2 separate regions of the Homo sapiens genome follow, and region 1 is linked to region 2. The links come from fine-mapping of genetic effects on gene expression. Tissue or cell type: ileum. Region 2 holds a variant in brackets; the other region holds the start of a gene. All regions are shown on one strand. Distances are between the middles of the regions.

Evidence for each region. PIP is the estimated chance that this variant, and not a neighbour inherited with it, causes the effect.
Region 1: it holds the start of IFITM10, and the variant in region 2 is fine-mapped to the expression of IFITM10 in ileum (GTEx, PIP 0.98).

What each region holds. Positions count from the first base shown.
Region 1 is chr11:1,744,862-1,753,877 of GRCh38, reverse strand. IFITM10 (interferon induced transmembrane protein 10) reads left to right here and starts at 3,283. Exons shown (of 3, transcript NM_001170820.4): 1 at 3,283-3,519; 2 at 5,759-6,211. The coding sequence starts at 3,436. It overlaps CTSD (cathepsin D), which reads left to right. Exons shown (of 9, transcript NM_001909.5): 8 at 1-75; 9 at 208-1,123. The coding sequence ends at 375. RefSeq lists enhancers at 3,472-4,227, 4,228-4,983.
Region 2 is chr11:1,699,311-1,709,823 of GRCh38, reverse strand. No RefSeq gene overlaps it. Among named protein-coding and RNA genes, the nearest start is that of KRTAP5-6, 7.4 kb to the right of the region's middle. The variant A/CCCA (reference allele first, on the strand shown) is at 4,480.

The DNA.
Region 1 (9,016 bases), 45 kb before region 2:
TCCACCCTGCCCGCGATCACACTGAAGCTGGGAGGCAAAGGCTACAAGCTGTCCCCAGAGGACTACACGCTCAAGGTGAGCGGGCAATGGGGTGCCGCACGCCCCAGGTGAGCGGGCGGTGAGGGGGCGCACGCTCCAGGTGAGCGGGCAACAGGTGGGGGGGCGGGTGGTGCTAGGCCTGGGTACTGACCACCAGGGCCGTCCCAGGTGTCGCAGGCCGGGAAGACCCTCTGCCTGAGCGGCTTCATGGGCATGGACATCCCGCCACCCAGCGGGCCACTCTGGATCCTGGGCGACGTCTTCATCGGCCGCTACTACACTGTGTTTGACCGTGACAACAACAGGGTGGGCTTCGCCGAGGCTGCCCGCCTCTAGTTCCCAAGGCGTCCGCGCGCCAGCACAGAAACAGAGGAGAGTCCCAGAGCAGGAGGCCCCTGGCCCAGCGGCCCCTCCCACACACACCCACACACTCGCCCGCCCACTGTCCTGGGCGCCCTGGAAGCCGGCGGCCCAAGCCCGACTTGCTGTTTTGTTCTGTGGTTTTCCCCTCCCTGGGTTCAGAAATGCTGCCTGCCTGTCTGTCTCTCCATCTGTTTGGTGGGGGTAGAGCTGATCCAGAGCACAGATCTGTTTCGTGCATTGGAAGACCCCACCCAAGCTTGGCAGCCGAGCTCGTGTATCCTGGGGCTCCCTTCATCTCCAGGGAGTCCCCTCCCCGGCCCTACCAGCGCCCGCTGGGCTGAGCCCCTACCCCACACCAGGCCGTCCTCCCGGGCCCTCCCTTGGAAACCTGCCCTGCCTGAGGGCCCCTCTGCCCAGCTTGGGCCCAGCTGGGCTCTGCCACCCTACCTGTTCAGTGTCCCGGGCCCGTTGAGGATGAGGCCGCTAGAGGCCTGAGGATGAGCTGGAAGGAGTGAGAGGGGACAAAACCCACCTTGTTGGAGCCTGCAGGGTGGTGCTGGGACTGAGCCAGTCCCAGGGGCATGTATTGGCCTGGAGGTGGGGTTGGGATTGGGGGCTGGTGCCAGCCTTCCTCTGCAGCTGACCTCTGTTGTCCTCCCCTTGGGCGGCTGAGAGCCCCAGCTGACATGGAAATACAGTTGTTGGCCTCCGGCCTCCCCTCTGTGCTGGTGTGCTCTTGTGCCTGGTCAGGGGTGGCTCCAACTTGGGATGGGGAAGGAGGGTGGGTAGTGCGAAGCCAGCACGGCAGCTGACTCGGCAGCACCGGGACAAGCATTTGGGGTGCCCCGGGCCTATGGCCCCCTGCCCTGCCCTGCCCAGCCCATGGGCTCCAGCCTGGTCGGCCAGCGGGGACTGACTTGTTCCCAGGTCTGGAGCAGTAGCCGGCAGGATGTGGCCTTGGCTGGGGTTTCAGGGTGTCTAGTGTGAGTGCCAGCCTTGAGGAGTGATTTCAGGGAGGTGGCCCAGCCAGGCAGCCACGGCACTCGAACAGAGGCTATTTCTGCTCTCGGGGACCCTCAGAGCAGGCCTACCAGTCACCCTCCTCAGCCCTCTTGTCCCGGGAAATAAATGGCCCCAGGTGGCGTGGGGGGGCTGGCCTAGCTGGGCCTTCTTGCCTCCCAGGCCCTAGAAGCGGTTTTGTGTGCAGTGAGCTGAGCTGGCACCAAGCAAGCCTGCCCAGGGTCCCTGGTTGCAGGGATTGGACTCAGAAGTCCCCTCCAGCCACAGCTGCCACAGTCACGGATCCCCGGGCTGATAACGCGGTGCGCTTGTTCCGCTGGGAGGGGAGGGGTTGGGAGCGTGTGCCCGGATGCAGTGGTAGCAGCCCCTGGGGTTCTAATAGGTAAGTAGGAGTTTGTGGGCATGTGGTGGTGGGAGCAGAGTTCCTTTTGGGATCAGTAGCTCTGGAGTCACTTAGAGCCCCCTCGAGCCCCACCCCAACAGGTTAGAAGATGAGGCAGATGTGACATTTGCCATTATCTTGATGCCTCTGCCTGAGGGTGGTGGCTGCCTTGGCCTTCCTCCCAAGGGGCTGCAGGGCTTTCACCCCAGAGCCATGCTACGGCAGACACCTGGAGCAAGAACATTTACCCAGGGTGGCACGGAGGCTTGGAAACACATGCCTGGCGTTTGGCATGCCTGAAATCTGAGCAGAGCTGGGCAGAACTCTGCAGGGCCTGGCAGGGCTTCTGGGGAGACAAATGTCCTGTCATCAGATGCTTTGTGCACTGAGGCCTGGGAGGGCAGAGAGGTACAAGGAGGCAGCCATACCCTGTTGTCCCTGCCCTGTCCCACTCTCCCCATCTCCCTCCTTCTGCAGCTTGTCAGCTCCGTCCAGCTCCCATCTTCATGGCTGCTGCCCTGGGGTTGCTCCGAGGGCTCCCTCCAGCCCGGCAGGATTCTCGGGGCCCTGGAGTCTGACCCCGGGTTCCTCCGTGGTTTTCTAGCTGGTGACTGGACCCTGAGCCTGGAGTCCCCCCCTGTCTAGACTGTGGGTTGTAACCAGAAACCCCTAGCAAAGGGGAAGCTGGAGCCCAGGCCCTTGGGGAGCCCACCAACAGTCACATGAATGCTGGCTGTGCCAAGTTTGGCTCGGCCCTGGCTCTGCCCTGCGACCCCTGGCTCCCTCTCAGTGGTGTTTCCTGGCCTCAGAGGCAGCCCCAAGGTGGCCTGAGGCCGGGAGCAGGCCCTGGCTCCCCTGTCACCTACCCAGTGACCCTGGGCAGGCCCTGGACCCTCGGGCCCAGGCAACCCTCTCCTGCTATGGAGGCCTCCTCACTGCCTGAGGCCTTCAGGGCAAACTGGGGTGGGGCAGCACTGGGCAGAGGCTGTGTGGCAGGCCAGGGTCTCCCAGAAGGTGGTGGCTGGCCGGGTAAGCCCAGCTCAGATGCTGGGGAGACATGGGGGCATGGCACACAGGCCACACTCAGCCTGGGATCAGGCCCCGTCTGAGGACACCGGGTCCAGTTTTCCCTGGGCCAGGCCCTTGGAAAGGAGGAGGGAGTTGGGGAGGGAGAACGGAACCCTGGTTCTCCGACAGGCCCCATCCACCCACGGCCTGTGGGCTCCAGGGAGAGCATGGCCAGGGTGCCCAAGGAGACGAGGAGGAGGCTCCTCATGCTTCATGACCCCTCCTGCTCGTTAGGGTTTATCAACATCATTTAAGATCAGCCTTGTGCTGTGGGTTCCTGGCGTGCTGTGGATAACACTGTGCCCGGGTCAGCCCAGGCATGAGGGGCGGGGACTAGGCTGGAAAGAGGAGGGGCTTGCAGAGGGCTGGGCTTTTCCAGGGGATTAGGGTTCAGAACAGAGGTTTGGGGAGAGAAAGGGTTCAGAGTCAGGCACAGGCAGGCAGACAGGACCCCAAGCAGGACTGGCCTTCCAGACAGGAAAGAGGGTTGCGGAGACACAGGAGGCCAGTTGAGAGTGGCAGAGGAGAAAGGAGTTTCATGGGAGGATGGGGCTTGGAGAGAGATGAGGGAGGGAAAACGGGGGCCGCCATGCATCCTCAGCTTCCGGGGGACTTTGGAGAGGGTCGAGGCTCAGTGGGAGCTGGAGGTTGGTGAAGAGGACCCAGCTCAGGGAACCTGCGTGGTGAAGTGGGGGACTTGGAGGGAGGGAGGGAAGGCTGGAGTTTTCTCCATGGGGAGGAACTCATGGGGACTGTTATGGGGATGGAAGATCAGCTGGCGTCAAGCATACCGTGAGAGTGAGGATGTGGTGGGGTAGCGGAGGCGGCTGAGGCTGGGAGGACAGGCATTGGTCAGGAAAAATGATTCACAGGGAACAAAGTATCCTCAGGGGACCAGGCTCAGAAGGGCTGGTAGGGATCACAGAGAGGCTGTGGGCAGGTGAGTAAACCAGCCTCCAGGGAGACAAGTGTCCTTAGCAGCCAGGACCTCAGCACAGGACCAGAGCTCGGAACGGGACACTTTGCCCTGCGAGCAGATGGAGCATGACCTGGGGTCTGCGCAGGAGAGGCCACATTCTCCCAGACTCTGGGAGTGAACTGGAGTGGGGCCCCGGCTGGGTGAAGTCAGACTCCAGGAAAGGGGGCAGGAGCTCCGATGGGCAGGAGTGGGCTCAGCCAGGAAGGAACAGAGTAGGGGGTGCTGAAACTTACCGGAAGGCCTGGACTTGGTGGGCTAAGGAGGGAAGGGACTGGAGGGTGGTCTTGGGGGCCTTGTGGACTTGGTTAGGGACAGGATGGGGCAGAGACGGGCAGTCAGGTAGGGGGCCTGCTGGGGCTCAGGGGACTGGAGCTTCGTCAGGAGGGGACTGAGCTGCTGGAACTGAGAGTCAACAGGCCAGAAGGGCAGGACCCAGGGGCGGGGGTCCCTGGAGGCAGCAGGGCCCAGGCGCTGGGGTGGAGCGCCATGGGGAGAGTGGGAAGAGGAAGAGGGTCTCTCTTGGGGAGGCAGATGGGGAGGGTTCCGGGAGCGTCCAGTCTTCCACGGGGCTGGGGGCTCCGCGAGAGGGATGGGGCCGGGTGGGGTGGGGAGGAAGACGCAGTGGGTCCGGGGAGATGGAGGTGGCGCGGACACCCTGGTCGGGGGCTGTAGGGGTCCCATCCCTGCGGGACCTTGCAACTCCCCAGGGTCGCGGCTTCCGAGGCCCCCACCCTCCTGGCAGGAGGAGGCGGAGGCGGGGAGGTGGCTGTGCCCGCTGCCGCCGTGAGTCAGGCTCTGGGCTGCAGCCGCGCGGCCGGTCTGGCGCTGCGGAGGGAGCGCAGGCGGCGGGGGAGGCAGCGGCGCCGCCGCCGAGCCCCGCGCGCTCCCCACCCCCTCAAGGTTGGGCCGCTGGGAGGCGGATCAGTGGACAGACAGCGGCCCGCGGGACGGCGGAAGGACGCGCGCACCGAGGCTCAGGGGGTCCGGCCGCGCGCCGAGGAGTCGCTTGTAGGTGAGGAGGCGCCGTCCGGGGGGCTGCGGCAGACCCGGATGGGGCTGGGGGCTGCAGAGCCTCGGCCGCAGACCCCCCGGCGAGCGCCGCACGGGAGCTGGGAACGCGGGGTGGCGCAGAGCGCGAGCGACTTGGTGCCTCGTTGGAGAAGTGTTCATTTCACAGCCTGTTATTGTGCGTCTATGTATGGCCCGGGGGTGCGTGGCTCCGGGCAAGTGTGCGCGCTTGGGGTCCCCAGGTTGGAGGTGGGGGGCGGTGCGCACGAGTTGGAGACCCCGCACCTGTGCCGGTTCTTGGTGCTCGTGGCTGAGCCTGCATCGCCTTGTGTGGGGAGTTGTTTACTCGTCAATGGCTCTGAGCGCGCCCGCGGGTGCGCCCCGGGGTCTGGAGAGCCCGCGGTGCAGCCCGCGGTGGAGCCCGTGGCGGTGCCCGTGGCGGTATCGGGTGTCCGCGGGCGCCGTGGGCAGGTGCTTTGGCCGCTCTGCTAGCTCTGCCGGTTGGCGGCTGAGGCAGCGTCGCTGTGGGTCCGGCGCCCCGTGTGTGCGGGGTTGTTTGGGGTGCTGGGGCACTCTGTGTTTTGCAACAGTGTCAGTCTCAGCGTTGGTGTGCTTCGGGGCGGGGGGTGCTGTTGTGTGTGTCAGTGGGTGAGTGTTTATGCGCAGATGGCGAAGTGATGAAAGCCCCAGGTCCCTGCCAAGGCTGCTGCGAAGGGCTTTGGCATCGTCCGTGGCCGCCGAGGCCCGGGGCGGGTGGGGGAGGCAGGTGGCAGGCTGGCAGCTGGCGGCCCCCGCAGGGATTTCCGTCTCCACTGGGGCTGTTCTCGGAGCTGCTGGGCGTGAGGGTGGGTGCTGGCCGGTAGGCCGGGCCCAGCTTGCTCTCACTTTCTCCTCTCCAGGCCCAGGGCCCCGGCCAGTGCCCAGCCCCGCTGGGAGACCCGGCCAGCACCACGGACGGCGCCCAGGAAGCCCGAGTCCCCCTGGACGGGGCCTTCTGGATTCCGAGGCCCCCGGCAGGTTCGCCCAAGGGCTGCTTCGCTTGCGTGTCCAAGCCCCCTGCCCTGCAGGCTCCGGCGGCCCCTGCCCCTGAGCCCTCGGCCTCTCCCCCGATGGCGCCCACACTGTTCCCCATGGAGTCCAAGAGCAGCAAGACCGACAGCGTGCGGGCTGCCGGCGCGCCCCCTGCCTGCAAGCACCTAGCCGAGAAGAAGACGATGACCAACCCCACGACCGTCATCGAGGTCTACCCGGACACCACCGAGGTGAACGACTATTACCTGTGGTCCATCTTCAACTTCGTCTACCTCAACTTCTGCTGCCTGGGCTTCATCGCCTTGGCCTACTCCCTCAAAGTGAGCCCGGGCGGTGGCAGGGGGCAAGGGCGGGCTAGAGAGGTGGTGCCGGCAGGACAGTCCCTGGCTGTGGGCGCTCGGCCCCTCTCCCTCTCAGGGGAGCACACGGGTAGAACAGGTGCAGTTGAGGGGCCAAGGGATCAAAGGACAGTGAGGGGTCCTGATGGTGGGTCCCAGAGAGGTCGGGGTACTGGCTAGGTCTGGGCGGGCAGGGGTCTGCCCTTCCCTCTCCTGAGCCATCAGGGCCTGGCTTTCTGCTCAGCCAGCTCAGCGGAACCTGCAGGAGGGGCTGGGAGCGGGGGTTGAGGGGGGCGGGGTTGCTCAGGCTCAGGGGACATGGGACGTAGACCTGGGCAGCAGCCACTTCTCCGTGTGCAGGGATGGGGCCAGCGTGGGGCTGAAGAGGGCTTGGAATCCTACCCCTATGGAAAGGAAGAGGGGCCACCTTCTTATCCAGCTCCTCACCCGGAGCCCAAGGGCAGGTGCTTACACAGCTCTGCCAAGCCCTGCGTGGAGACCAGACCTGGGTGGCCAGGGCAGCCCAGGGAAGAGGGGTGTAAACAGGTCCTGCACCTCCCCAGCTCAGGGCTGCGAGAAGAGCTGGCTGGTAGCAGAGCAGGTGCTGGGCAGACATGACCCTGTCCCCCTGAGGGCAAGGTGGAGCAGCAGGGACTGAGATGGTGGGAGGGAGGCTGTGATGGGCTCACAGTGAGAGGGGCAGCCGTGTGTCAATGTGTCTGGTGCTGGAGCCCTTCCTGGGGAAGGGAGCGTGAGGGCGAGGGCAGGCCCCGGTGCCCTCCTCCCCACCCCGACGCACCGGAAGGAAGGGCTTGGCTCACGTTTAGCCTCATCATCACATTTCCCCAGCCCAGACTTGAGTGGCCAAGGCCAGATGTACTCCACCAATGCAGCTGCCCTGCCGGGTGGGGGAGAAGACAGGGGATGCAGGGAGAGAAGAGGCTGGGCAGAGGCTGGCTGGGAGGAAGGACGCCTGGCCAGCTTCGCCTCTGCTCCATCCTTGAGCTCGAGCCCCACCCCGCCCGGCATCGCAACTGCGGTCGGCGTTCCCCTCCTGCTCCTGACTCATCATGATTGCCAACCCCGGCGTTGCCCACTGGCACGGGCACCTTCAACCTCGGGCCTGCGGATCCATCCCTGGGCTCTGACACAGGGGCCTGTGTGTGAGCCAGCACGTGTCAGTGTATGTGTGTACTCACGTGTAATTGCATAAGTGGGCATGTACTGTGAGTGTAACTATGTGTGCATGTGAATGCATTGTGTGCATGAGTGTGTACATATATTTTTGTGTGTGCATGTGTGTGCATGTGTATGACTGTGTGTAGGCAGGAGTGTATTTGCATGTGTGTACATGTGAATGCATATGTGTGCATGTGTGTAATTACGTGGGTGGGCATGGTGTGTGTAAATGTGTGTGCACAAGTGTGTGAGGGCGTGTGTGCATGTGTGGTGTGTGTACCTGTGTGCATGTGTGTGTAATTGCATGTGTGCATGGTGTGTGTAAATGTGTGTGCACAATGTGTGAGGGTATGTGCATGTGCGCTGTATGTACCTGTGTGCACGTGTGTAATCACACGTGAGTGTGCATGGCACATGTAAATGTGTGTGCACAAGTGTGTGGGGTGTGCCTGTGTACTGTCTGTATGTACCTGAGTGTGCACGTGTGTGTAATCACACATGAGTGTGCATGGCACGTATAAATGTGTGTGCACAAGTGTGTGTGGGGTGTGCCTGTGTACTGTCTGTATGTACCTGAGTGTGCACGTGTGTGTAATCACACGTGAGTGTGCATAGCACGTATAAATGTGTGTGCACGGGTGTGTGAGGGTGTGTGCATGTGTGCTGTGTGTATGTACCTGAGTGTGTGCATGTGTGTGTAATCGCACGAGTGTGCATGGCACGTGTAAATGTGTGTACACAAGTGTGTGAGGGTGTGTGCCTGTGTGTTGTCTGTACCTGCATGTGCATGTGTGTAATCACACGTGTGTGGTTCATGTAAATGTGTGTGCACAAGTGTGTGTGAGTGTGTGCATGTGTGATGTATGTACCTGACTGTGCATGCGTGTGTAATCATACGTGAGTGTGCATGGTACGTGTAAATGTGTGTGCACAAGTGTGTGAGAGCATGTGTGTGTGGTGGTGAGTATTCCTGCGTGTGTGTGTGTGTGTAGAAGCAACAAAGGAAAAGGGCCCCTGGAATTGGAGGTCATGCTTCCGACCAGCTCCAGCTGTGGCTCCCCAGACCAATCCTGAGCAGAAAGCTCCAGTGTTGGGGGGCTGAAGCTGCAGCTGGTGGAGCTCTGCCTCCCCTCTCTCTGTGCCCTGCCAACAGCCTGCGGACATGGGTCTGGCTGCCTGGGCTCCCGTCCGGAAGCTGTCCCTCCTCCCGCTTGGCTCAGGCTGTGGCTGGCCGGCTGGCATGGGGCAGGCCCATCTGGCTCGGGTTGTAGGTAGGTCAGGGATTTCTGGATGGTGCCGGGTTTCTGCAGGGGTTGGGGGTGGTGTGAGGTTGACCCTTCTGAGGGTCAGGGACGGCTCATTACACCTCCTCCCAAGCCTGCTCCTCCTGTGTCCTTCCTGCGGTGGGCGGGGGCAGCCAGGGCAGAGAGGCTTTGGGGCATACCTGGGAGTGGGTGCAAGGTGACCTGTCTCCATCCTGGGCAGAAGGGAGGACGGAACTGGCTGGCTGTGGACCCCACGCCTGGGAATGCATCCATCTGGTCACCCAGCTGCAGGTCTCCTGACCTGCACCCTACACCAAGGACGCGGGGTGGCCCTAGGTTCAGA
Region 2 (10,513 bases):
TAAATGTTCCCTGTGCACTTGAAGAGAGTGTGTATTCTGCTGTTATTGGGTGGAGTGACCTCTAAACGCTGACTACATCCTGCTGGTTTAAAGCGTTGTTCAAGCCTTCTGTGTTCTTTTTTTTTTTTTTTTTTTTTTTTGAGACGGAGTCTCGCTCTGTCGCCCAGGCTGGAACTCAGTGGCGCGATCTCGGCTCACTGCAAGCTCTGCCTCCCGGGTTCACACCATTCTCCTGCCTCAGCCTCCCGAGTAGCTGGGACTACAGGCGCCCGCCACCACGCTCGGCTAATTTTTTGTATTTTTAGTGGAGACGGGGTTTCACCGTGTTAGCCAGGATGGTCTCGATCTCCTGACCTCATGATCTGCCTGCCTCGGCCTCCCAATGTGCTGGGATTACAGGCACCCGCCACCACGCCTGGCTAATTTTTTGTATTTTTAGTAGAGACGGGGTTTCACCGTGTTAGCCAGGATGGTCTCGATCTCCTGACCTCGTGATCCGCCCGCCTCGGCCTCCCAATGTGCTGGGATTACAGGAGTGAGCCACCGCACCCGGCCCTGTGTTCTTATTTAGTTTCCATCTGCTTTTTCTAGCAATTATGGAGGGAAGATTCTTAGTAGAAGGTTATTTATTCTCCACTGTTGAGACCCTTCTCAATATTCCACCCACATGCTCCATGAATTGTGGAATTTTCCAGCCTTTCTGCTGGGGTCAGTCACTGTCCCCAGCCCTGTGTGCGCGCCTGGCACAGTTCCCTTTGGTCCTCTCTGCTGGTTCTTTCCCTGGCTTCAAGTAGTTCTCTCCCACGCATGTGCCATTCAGTGCCCTGCTGAGGACTGAAGAGGGGACCCTCCGCATGTCTCCCAGCTCCCTGTGCAGCGCTCCACTCTCCGATGCTCTGCCCTGTGACCTCGGGCTGCCTTGGTCTTCACAAATGCTCAACTCAAGGAATACACTGAGCTTCCCCGGGGTCTCCTCTCCCTGCGCCATGACCTGGAAACACTCTGAGGGCTGAAACCTGGGGCCACTGAAGGGCTCACGTCCCAGGGCTCACCTCCCAGTCCTTTCTTGTCTGTTGTCTACCTCTTGAGAATAATGTGTTTGTCTTGGTTTTGTTGTTGTTGTTTTACATTTACAATTGTATATTTATTCTCTGTTGCTCTATCTTGACCCAAAGCAGAAGTATCCTAATTCTTTTTTTAATATATTAATCTTTTTATTTTGAGATTATTTTAGGTTTGCATGCAGTTGTAAGAAATAATAGAATATCATGAACCCTTTATCCAGTTCCCTCAATGGTAACTCCTTGCAAAACTACGGAACAATATCACAATCAGAATATTGGCATCGATATTTTCAAAACACAGACCACATTCATCACTGCCGGAACCCTGGGCGATAAACCCTAGGAGACACTAATTGGTTATCCATTTCTATAAAGTTTTCATTTCAAGGATGTTATGTAACTGAAATAAAACAGCATGTAACCTTTTGAATTGGCTTTTTATTTTTCATTCAGCATGATTCTCTGGAGATTAGCAGGCTGTGGTATGTATCAATAGTTCATTCCTTTTTCTTGCTAAACATATTCCATAAGCTGAACGAGCCCCAACTTATTTAACTGTTCGCCCATTGAAGGACGCCTGGATTTTCAGTGTGGGGCTATTATGAATAGCCCAAAGCAATTGTGTGAAAGCTTTTAGGTGAAAGCTGCAATGACTGGAATACTGCAGTAAAGTCTGTTTCCCCTGAGAAGTAGTGGGCAGGTCCACCTTGATATGATGGGGGTGTGGGAAGGCTCTCTTCGTCTCTTTCCCTGACCAAACCCAGCTGCTAAATTCGTCATTGCAAGCTGGTTGCTCGATTGTTTTTGACATCACCCTAGGGAATAAATTGCTTCACAGACTAATCCAATCAAATTCTGACTCCTTTGAAAGGAAAGGCCAGTGCTTGAGATTTCTTACTAACCCAGAAAGTCTCTTCCCAGCTCTCTCTTTCTCCATTTCTCTCCAGAAAACTAGCCATCTTAGAGTTAGGCTACGTCTCTAAAGAATCTATCAATCTTCTCCCAGTTGCCCTTCACCACAACCGCCACTGACTCTGAGAGCACCCTTAGGTTTGAACTTCATACTCTGTTGCAAATGAAGTCAGTTCCTTTTGGGAGAGACTAGGAGATCCTCTGTTCTACATCCTGCCATTCTCCCTGGACAAAATCTCTAAGCCACAGCTCTGGAACTGACGGCAGGGATCTTGGCTCACTGGTGTCATGCCTACTTTAGAAGCTGGACACTTGAGTGATGGGCAGCAGCTCCAGGTGTCCTCAGCTTGCCTCTCTCAGCATGAACCCCTCCCATAAGCTGGAGCAAAGGTGACCAGAGACCCGAGACCCAGGATTCTCAGCATGATGAACCCAGGGCAGCCTTTGCTGCATGAGTGAGACCTGAGGCTGAGTAGAGGAAGGGACCCTCACCTCTCGGACACACTCACTCAGAATTCAGCCTGAGACACAGGTAGCTGGGGGCAGGATGCTAGCACACTGACCCTCACAGGAAGAGAGCCTCACCAACTGGAAGTGAAACTACCTTTTGACAGCGAGAGAGGTCTAGCATGGCTGACTCCATCTTGCTTCTGGCTCATAGGCTGGTTGTCCTTGCTTATTCCTGGACTCAGGCCAAGCTAACTGATGCAGGATTTTTTCTCAGCCTCTTTGCTGGACTCACAGCAGAGGCTCCTCATCTACTTGGCCCAGCATGCTCAGCCCCTTGCGGGAGGGAGTGCATGAGCGAGCAAGTGTGGGATCTGGCCAGCCACTCTGAACGCTGACACGGGAGCAAACTCCACGTGGGGCCCACAGCCAGACCAGGTGTGTCACCTCGAGGAGAACATGGCAGTGCCCAGACAAGGGTGCCCGCAACCCCGAAGCCCCAGAGGGGGTGTTAGTGCTCTAATCAGCTCTTATAGTTCCACCATCCACATCCCAATGGAGGGCAATGTGTTAGCAGCTCGGTCGGCCCCTGGCCTCATCGCGTGGGGCAGCTGCCCTCTGCTGGCGAGGGCAAAGGGCCCGGGTGACATCCTTTCTAGGTACCTGCACTCTGTGGGTCCTGAGCTCTTGTCCAGCGTCCAAGAAGAATGAGGTCATGCTGGTGATTGAAGGATGGTGAAAGTGGAGACTTTTACTGAGCAATGAAAACAGCTCTCAGCAGAGAGGGGAACTGGAAAGGGGACAGGGAGGGCAGGTCGTCTTCCCCAAAGTCAGGAGATCTCTTCCTTGAAGTCAGGCCTTCTCTCTCTCTCTACCAACTGAGTCTGGAGTCTTTATAGGCCCAGGACGGGGGCAGGCCAGGCCATAGGTAGTATTGGAAAAGGCAGTATTTGATTGGTTAAAAAGGCATTATTCAAAATGAACCAATCCGGAGCGAGCAGGCAAACAAGAATAGAAGTTTTCACTCTGGGCTGCAGGTTTCAGGATGTTTTGGCTTGAAGGTGAGGTTTCACTGGGGACCCACCCCCATCTGCCTGGGATTTGTCTGCCTCCTGCCTCTATTATATCCATGGGAGGAATTTAGTTTATAGTTTAACTTGTAAGCAAGGATGATAACGGTCCCGCCCTAAAACAAATCCCCTCCTTTTTGGGGAGCTGAAACTGCCTTTATAGGACTAATGAAAGACCACAAGATTAGAATTACAGGAGGGCATGAGTTCTGCTAAAATATAGGCATAGTTTCTATAATCCCCCTCTGCTTAGGAGTCATTTGTCCAGAGATCACAAGATTTGTGGCTTCCCCAGTTGCTCCTATAGATAATATCACTGTGGTAGAATTAAGATTGGTCTTTTGAGGTGGTTTTCCAACTGACCCCATGCAGACTCGTGACTCACGACTTGTTTAACCGTTCACCCGTTGAAGGATGTCTGGGTTGCTTTCACTTTGGGGTTGTTATCCACCCAGAGGCAGATTCAGGGCACAAGGACCATTTTCCACACCCCTGTGATTGCCCCCGCAACCAATGAGGAGCACCCATTCCCCAGCCCCCCACCCACCACACTGTCCTGGAAAAACCCTAACCTTCAAGCCTTCAGGGAGACGGGTTTGAGTGATCATTCCAGTTCTTCCACCTGGCAGGCCTTGCGTTAATTAAACATTTCATTTACTGCAATACCATGTTCTCAGAGTGAACTGGTTTTGTCTGTGCAGCGGGCGGGAAGAGCCTGTCGGGCAATTACAGAAACTGGAGGAGAGATAGTCTTGCATTCCTGGCTGTACAGCCTGGAGTGGAGCTTCTGTCTCACTGGGCTGGGAGAGGGCACACGCATTGGCTCAGATACCACAGACTCACACAGTTCTCACTAAGCTTTAGTCGATTTTCTTGAATAAATGTTTCTCTATTTGAAATGGCTACAGGGCCATTTGCAGATGCTTTAAATGGTTGTTGGGGGTGGGGTTTCGTTTGTTTTTGTTTTTAAAGTCTTCACCAGTTTC[A/CCCA]CATGGAAGTGGATCTCTGGAGTTCCCCCTCATTGTCACGCTGCAGTGGGACTGCCCTGTGACTTTATTATTTCATAGCATTTGAACATAAGATAATCACAAGCTTTCAAAGGACTAAATGTTCGATGAAGAAAATGGCACAGAAAAAAAAAATGTCCCTTCTAAATAAGGACTCACTTGGTCCTCCACCAGCAACCAGGAGCACTGCCAAGTGTGTCTCTCTCCTTATGACGTGACCTTTTATCTTTAAAGGACACTGAATTTCACTCACATTATTATTTCTTACACAGTGTGTTTTTATTATTCAAGGTCACTAAGACTTTCTCCTGTTTTATTCCAAATGTTTTATTGTTTTATATTCAACATTTAGGTCTATGATGGGCATAGAGTTAATTTTATATAAAGTATGAGGTTGAGGTTGAGGTTTTGTTTTCGTTTTGTCTACGGCGGTTCAATTGTTCCAATGCCATTTTTTGGAAACGGTTCTCCTTTCGCGCGCTGGTATGAATGCGTTCCCCAAAATTCATGCGCTGTAACTTAACCCCTGTTATGGTGTTACTAAGAGGTGGGGTCTCTTGAGAAGTGATCAAGTCAGGGCTTTGCTCTCAGGCATAGATTAGTGCCTCATTAAAGGGCTGGGGGGGATGAGCTTGGGTCCTTTTTGCCCCTTATGTTTTCCACCAAAAGGACACAGCAAAGAGCCTCCACCAGATGCAGAATACTGGCACCTTGATCTGGGGACGTCTAGCCTCCAAAACTGTGAGAAATGTACTTCTATTGTTTGTAAAATACCCAGTCACAGGTATTTTGTGATTGCAGCAGACACTTCTCCATTTAGTTGTCTTGCCCCTTTGTCATAAATTAGCGCAGTCTTGTGTGTGCGAGTGACATCTCAACTCCGTGCTTTTCCCTTGATCTGTGTGTCTACCCCTCTGCCCATACCACACTGTCTACATTGCTGTCGCTTTATGGAATGTCTCAAAGTCAGCTAATGTCATTCTTCCAACTATATTTCTTGTTTCAAAATTGTTTTGGCTATTCTATTTTCTTTTCTTTTTTAAATGTTTTCTTATTACACTTTAAGTTCTAGGGTACATGTGCACAACGTGCAGGTTTGTTACATATGTATACATGTGCCATGTTGGTGTGCTGTACCCGTTAACTCGTCATTTACATTAGGTATATCTCCTAATGCTCTCCCTCCCCCCTCCCCCCACCCCACGACAGGCCCCAGTGTGTGATGTTCCCCTTCCTGTGTCCAAGTGTTCTCATTGTTCAGTTCCCACCTATGAGTGAGAACATGTGGTGTTTGGTTTTCTGTCCTTGCGATAGTTTGCTGAGAATGATGGTTTTCAGTTTCATCCATGTCCCTACAAAGGACATGAACTCATCATTTTTTATAGCTGCATAGTATTCCATGGTGTATATGTGCCACATTTTCTTAATCCAGTCTATCATTGATGGATATTTGGGTTGGCTCCAAGTCTTTGCTATTGTGAATAGTGCTGCAATAAACATACGTGTGCATGTGTCTTTATAGCAGCATGATTTATAATCCTTTGGGTATATACCCAGTAATGGGATGGCTGGGTGAAATGGTATTTCTAGTTCTAGATCCTTGAGGTTATTCTATTTTCTTTTGCCTTTCCTCATAAATTTCATAAACAGCTTATGAATATCTACCAAAAAATCCTGCTAAGATTGTTGTTGGAATCCAATTAAATCTGCACATCAGTTTTGGGGAAGTTGACGTCTTTATTATTTTGTGTCTTCAAATCTATGAATGCACGACTCTCTCCACTTATTTAGGTATTTTTTGATTCCTTTCATCAGTGTTTTGTATTTATAACATGTGCATTCTGTACATATTTTGTTAGATTTATAACTTTTTATTTTTGGACGTATTTCAGAAAACACACTATGTTTTAGGGCAGTTTTAGGTTCACAGCAAAATTGAGTTGAATGTATAGAAAATTACCGTATTTCACCTGCTGCCACACCTACATAACGTCCCCTGCTGTTAGCATCCTACACTAGGGTGGCCCATTTGTCATCATTGATGAGCCAACATTGACACGTGGTGAGCACCCAAAGTCCAGACCTAACCTTCACCTCCACTCTTCATGTTGTACGTTCTACAACACAAATGATGAACGTGGAATGCCATTTATTCACCATCACAGTATCATATAGAACAGTTTTGGGCCGGGCACGCTCACTCCTGTAATCCCAGCACTTTGGGAGGCCAAGGCAGGTGGATCACCTGAGGTCAGGAGTTTGAGACCAGCCTGGCCAACATGGTGATATCCCACACACACCTCGGTCATGTGTGTCTGCTCTTTTTTCTTGTCTGTCTTGCTACAGGCTTATCTTTTTTGATCTTTATTTATTGATCTTTATTGATCTTTTCAAAGAACCAGATTTTGGTTTAATTAATTTTCTTGTTTTATTTTTTTTATTTTTTTGAGATGGAATTTCACTCTGTTGCCCGGGCTGGAGTGTGGTGGCACGATCTCAGCTCAGTTCTCTGCAACCTCTGCCTCCTGGGTTCAGCTATTCTCCTGCCTCAGCCTCCCAAGTAGCTTACATTACAATCATGGGCCACCACGTCAGGCTAATTTTTGTACTTTTAGTGGAGATGGGGTTTTGCCGTGTTGGCCAGGCTGGTCTCGAACACCTGACCTCAAGTGATCCACCCACCTCGGCCTCCCGAAGTGCTGGGATTATAGGCGTGAATCACCACGCCTGGCTGGTTGAATAAATTTTCTCCGTTGTTTTGCTATTTTCTATTGCATTGATTTCTAATTTTATATGCATACATACACACTTATCCATAAATTTATATATTTTTTCCTGCTTGCTTTCAGATTATTTGTTCCTTGAAGGTTATGTAGAATTAACCAATGAAACCATCTGGCCTTGAAGGGTTTTTTTGTGTGGGAAGGCTTTTAACTACAAATTCTGTTTCTTGATAGAGATATTCAGGCTCCCTCTTCCTTCTTGAGTTTGGTGGTTCATGTCTTTCGAGCAATTGGTCCCTTTCCTCTTAGTTTCCAAATGTATGCGGCGTGCAGTATTCCTGCATTATCCTTTTAATGTCCGTGGGACCCGAAGTGATATCCCTTTTCTCATTCCTGATATTGGTAATTTGCATCTTCTTTCTTTTTCATCTTGCCAGTCTTGCTAAAATTTAAAAAATATGTTGATCTTTTCAAAGAACCAGCTTGACTATATTCTTTGTTTATATCTTTTTAATGGTTGTTCTAGAGTACGGGTATATTGCTTACTTTTGCACTGTGTACTTAGAATCGATATTTCACTAATTTAGGTGGAATCCAGGAATCTTCCCGCAATAGAGACCACTTGTCTCATAAATGACAAATACTCATTTTGAAAACCCCACCAGAGAATGGTGTGATTTTTGTTTACAACATCAAACACATTTTGAAGAGAATAACCCATTAGATTTACCCATATGTTCACCTAAAACTCTGAGGATAGGAAACTTTCTCTCTCAGAAGAGCCTTCGTGGTCCCAAGACAGTGGGTGAGCCCATTGTTTTAAATATTTAGCTGGTATTTTATCTCCTCATGTCCTCATTCATGGCCCTTGGTGTCTCCATGTGTCTCTGACTGCGGGTGCTGGCTCTTGCCCACGGTGGCTGCTTTCCTTGTGTGCTTGTGGTTTTCTGCTGTGAGCTCATGTTTGCCTCGGCTGTAGGTGGGGAGCTCAGGGCCTTGGCTGAGGACACAGACTTTGTCTGAAGTTTTGCTGCACTTCCTTCCACCGGGCTGCTCTGGGTCCTATCAATTCAGGACCACTTTAAGTGACTTGCTCAGCTTGTGGTTTTCTGGACCACAAAACTGATGCCAATGTGTGCCTCCCACCTGGATAATGGTGGGCCTGAAGTTGTCACTTCTCAAAGGAAATGTTTTTATCACCCATCTCAGACTCAGCAAACGTATTTCTCTGCTGTCTCCTTCTGGCAGTGGCTGGGTTGCCTTCTAGCTGCCCCCATGAGAGGGCACAGTCCCTTCCTTCTGGCAGCGGCTGGGTTGCCTTCTAGCCACCCCCATCAGAGGGCACAGTCCCTTCCGGGATCTCTGCTTTGGGCAGCAGCTCTGAGCTCCAACCACCCACTGTGCAGAACAAAGACTTGTCTTCTGCATTGCACCCTCCCACGCAGCTCTTAAAACCAAATCCTCTGAGTGCGTGTGCATGCTGCGCTGCACTCTTACAATTCAGGACCCAGCAACAGCCGCGAACGGGGCAAATTCCATGCAACACAGTGGATGAACCTCGCCAACATAGTCTGGGGCCAAAGGAGCTGGCCATGAGAGGACACGGCCTACGATGGCGTTTTATGAAGTCCAGTAACAGACAAAACTGGTGTCTGATGGGATAATTCAAGCTCATGGTTACTCTTGGTGGGGAGTGGGTAGCAATTAGAAATGGGTGCTTCTGGGGTGCCGGAATGTTCTATTTCTTGTTCTGAGGGCCAGTTCTAGGAAGGTGTTCAGCTTTTGTGGAAACTTATTGAGTTCTACATGGATACCTTGTCCACTTTTTTATAGTTTTATTTTAATACAATGTGGCAACAGCAGCGAGGGACCCTCTTCCCTGAGGGGCACCTCTATTCCACAGCTGTCACCCCAACTGACTCTTCACTCTGAAACGTGACAGAGCGTATTTCTGCTGTAAACTGTGCTGCTCCCTCCTCCAGGTGATGAAGCCTATGTGTCCCCTCTTTCCCTTTTTGCTCTGACTGCTAGGGAGCTCACATTAAAGGCTGGGCTCTCTGGTTGTCATTTTCCTGGATCTGGATGCCATGATATCGATGTCTCTTCTACCCTTTCTGGTCTTTTTTGGGTGGTTTTATTCCTGGGGAACTTTCACTCTAACATAATCCACACTTTTTGGGTGAGGCAGCCGGCATCCAAGAAAATCAGGGTAGCATCAGGCCTTGGGGACCAAGTGACATGGGCTGAGATTCTGGCTCTGTGGTTTTCACTTCCGTAACCGGGATAGAGGATGCAAAGCATTGAACTCAGAGCCTGGCAACATGATACAGACTCCGTGAGTATGAGTGCGATGATTATTTTTGAATCATAATGCATCCATGGACACACTGGAAGCACCAAATTAGACCCGAATGGAGTGGTCAGCAGGGAGACCTCCTGGCCAAGGATGGCCAGGCAGAAAGATGAGAGGCTGCTCCCCAGGGCCACCAAGTCACTGATGGCCTGGGGCTCAGGGGCTGAGGGCAGAGACAGTCAGGAAGGACTGGCAAGGCAGCCATACTGGGGCCTCAGGAAAAGGCGCCACTGACTGGCCAAGGTCCTCCCCAGGGCCTGCCCTGCACTACCTCTGCCCCCACATTTGCTGTCAGAGCCATGGTGAGACGGGGCCTGGGATAGGAGGTATCTTCCTGGTGATGTCCCTGAGTGTGGCTCCCGAGAGGAGAGCAGTCTCTGGCCAAATGTTCTGTTGTGGTTATGAGCAGCATTTGCAGTCGGACTGAGAGGTTAGAACTGCACCCATGCCACCTGCGTGTGGGGCCATGCCCAGGTGTGTGCCAGCTCTGCATCTCAGTCACAGCTGCTATGGGAGTCAAGAAAAAGGACACCCACCTTGTGGTCCCTGGAGGACTGGATAGGCTGTCTCCACCCAGGACCTGAGCTGCAGGGGAGGGTTCTGATTCCCTGTCAGCTGTGAGCACGTGGGATGCAGGAGGAGCTCAGTAAACACACATTCAGTGACGGGCCGGGAATGGGCTGACCCTGCAGGCAGATTCACTCAGGCAAGAGCTGCAGGGAAAGAGATGCAGTGGTAGGCGGTGCTTGTTATTTTGAGGTGTGTTCCTTCAGGACCTAGTTTATTCAGAGTTTCTGGCATGAAGGGATGTCAGCCAGGCACAGCGGCTCACGCCTATACTCCCAGCACTTTGGGAGAGCAAGGCGGGCGGATCACTTGAGGTCAGGAGTTTGAGACCAGCCTGGCCAACATGGTGAAACCCCGTCTCTGCTGGGCGCGG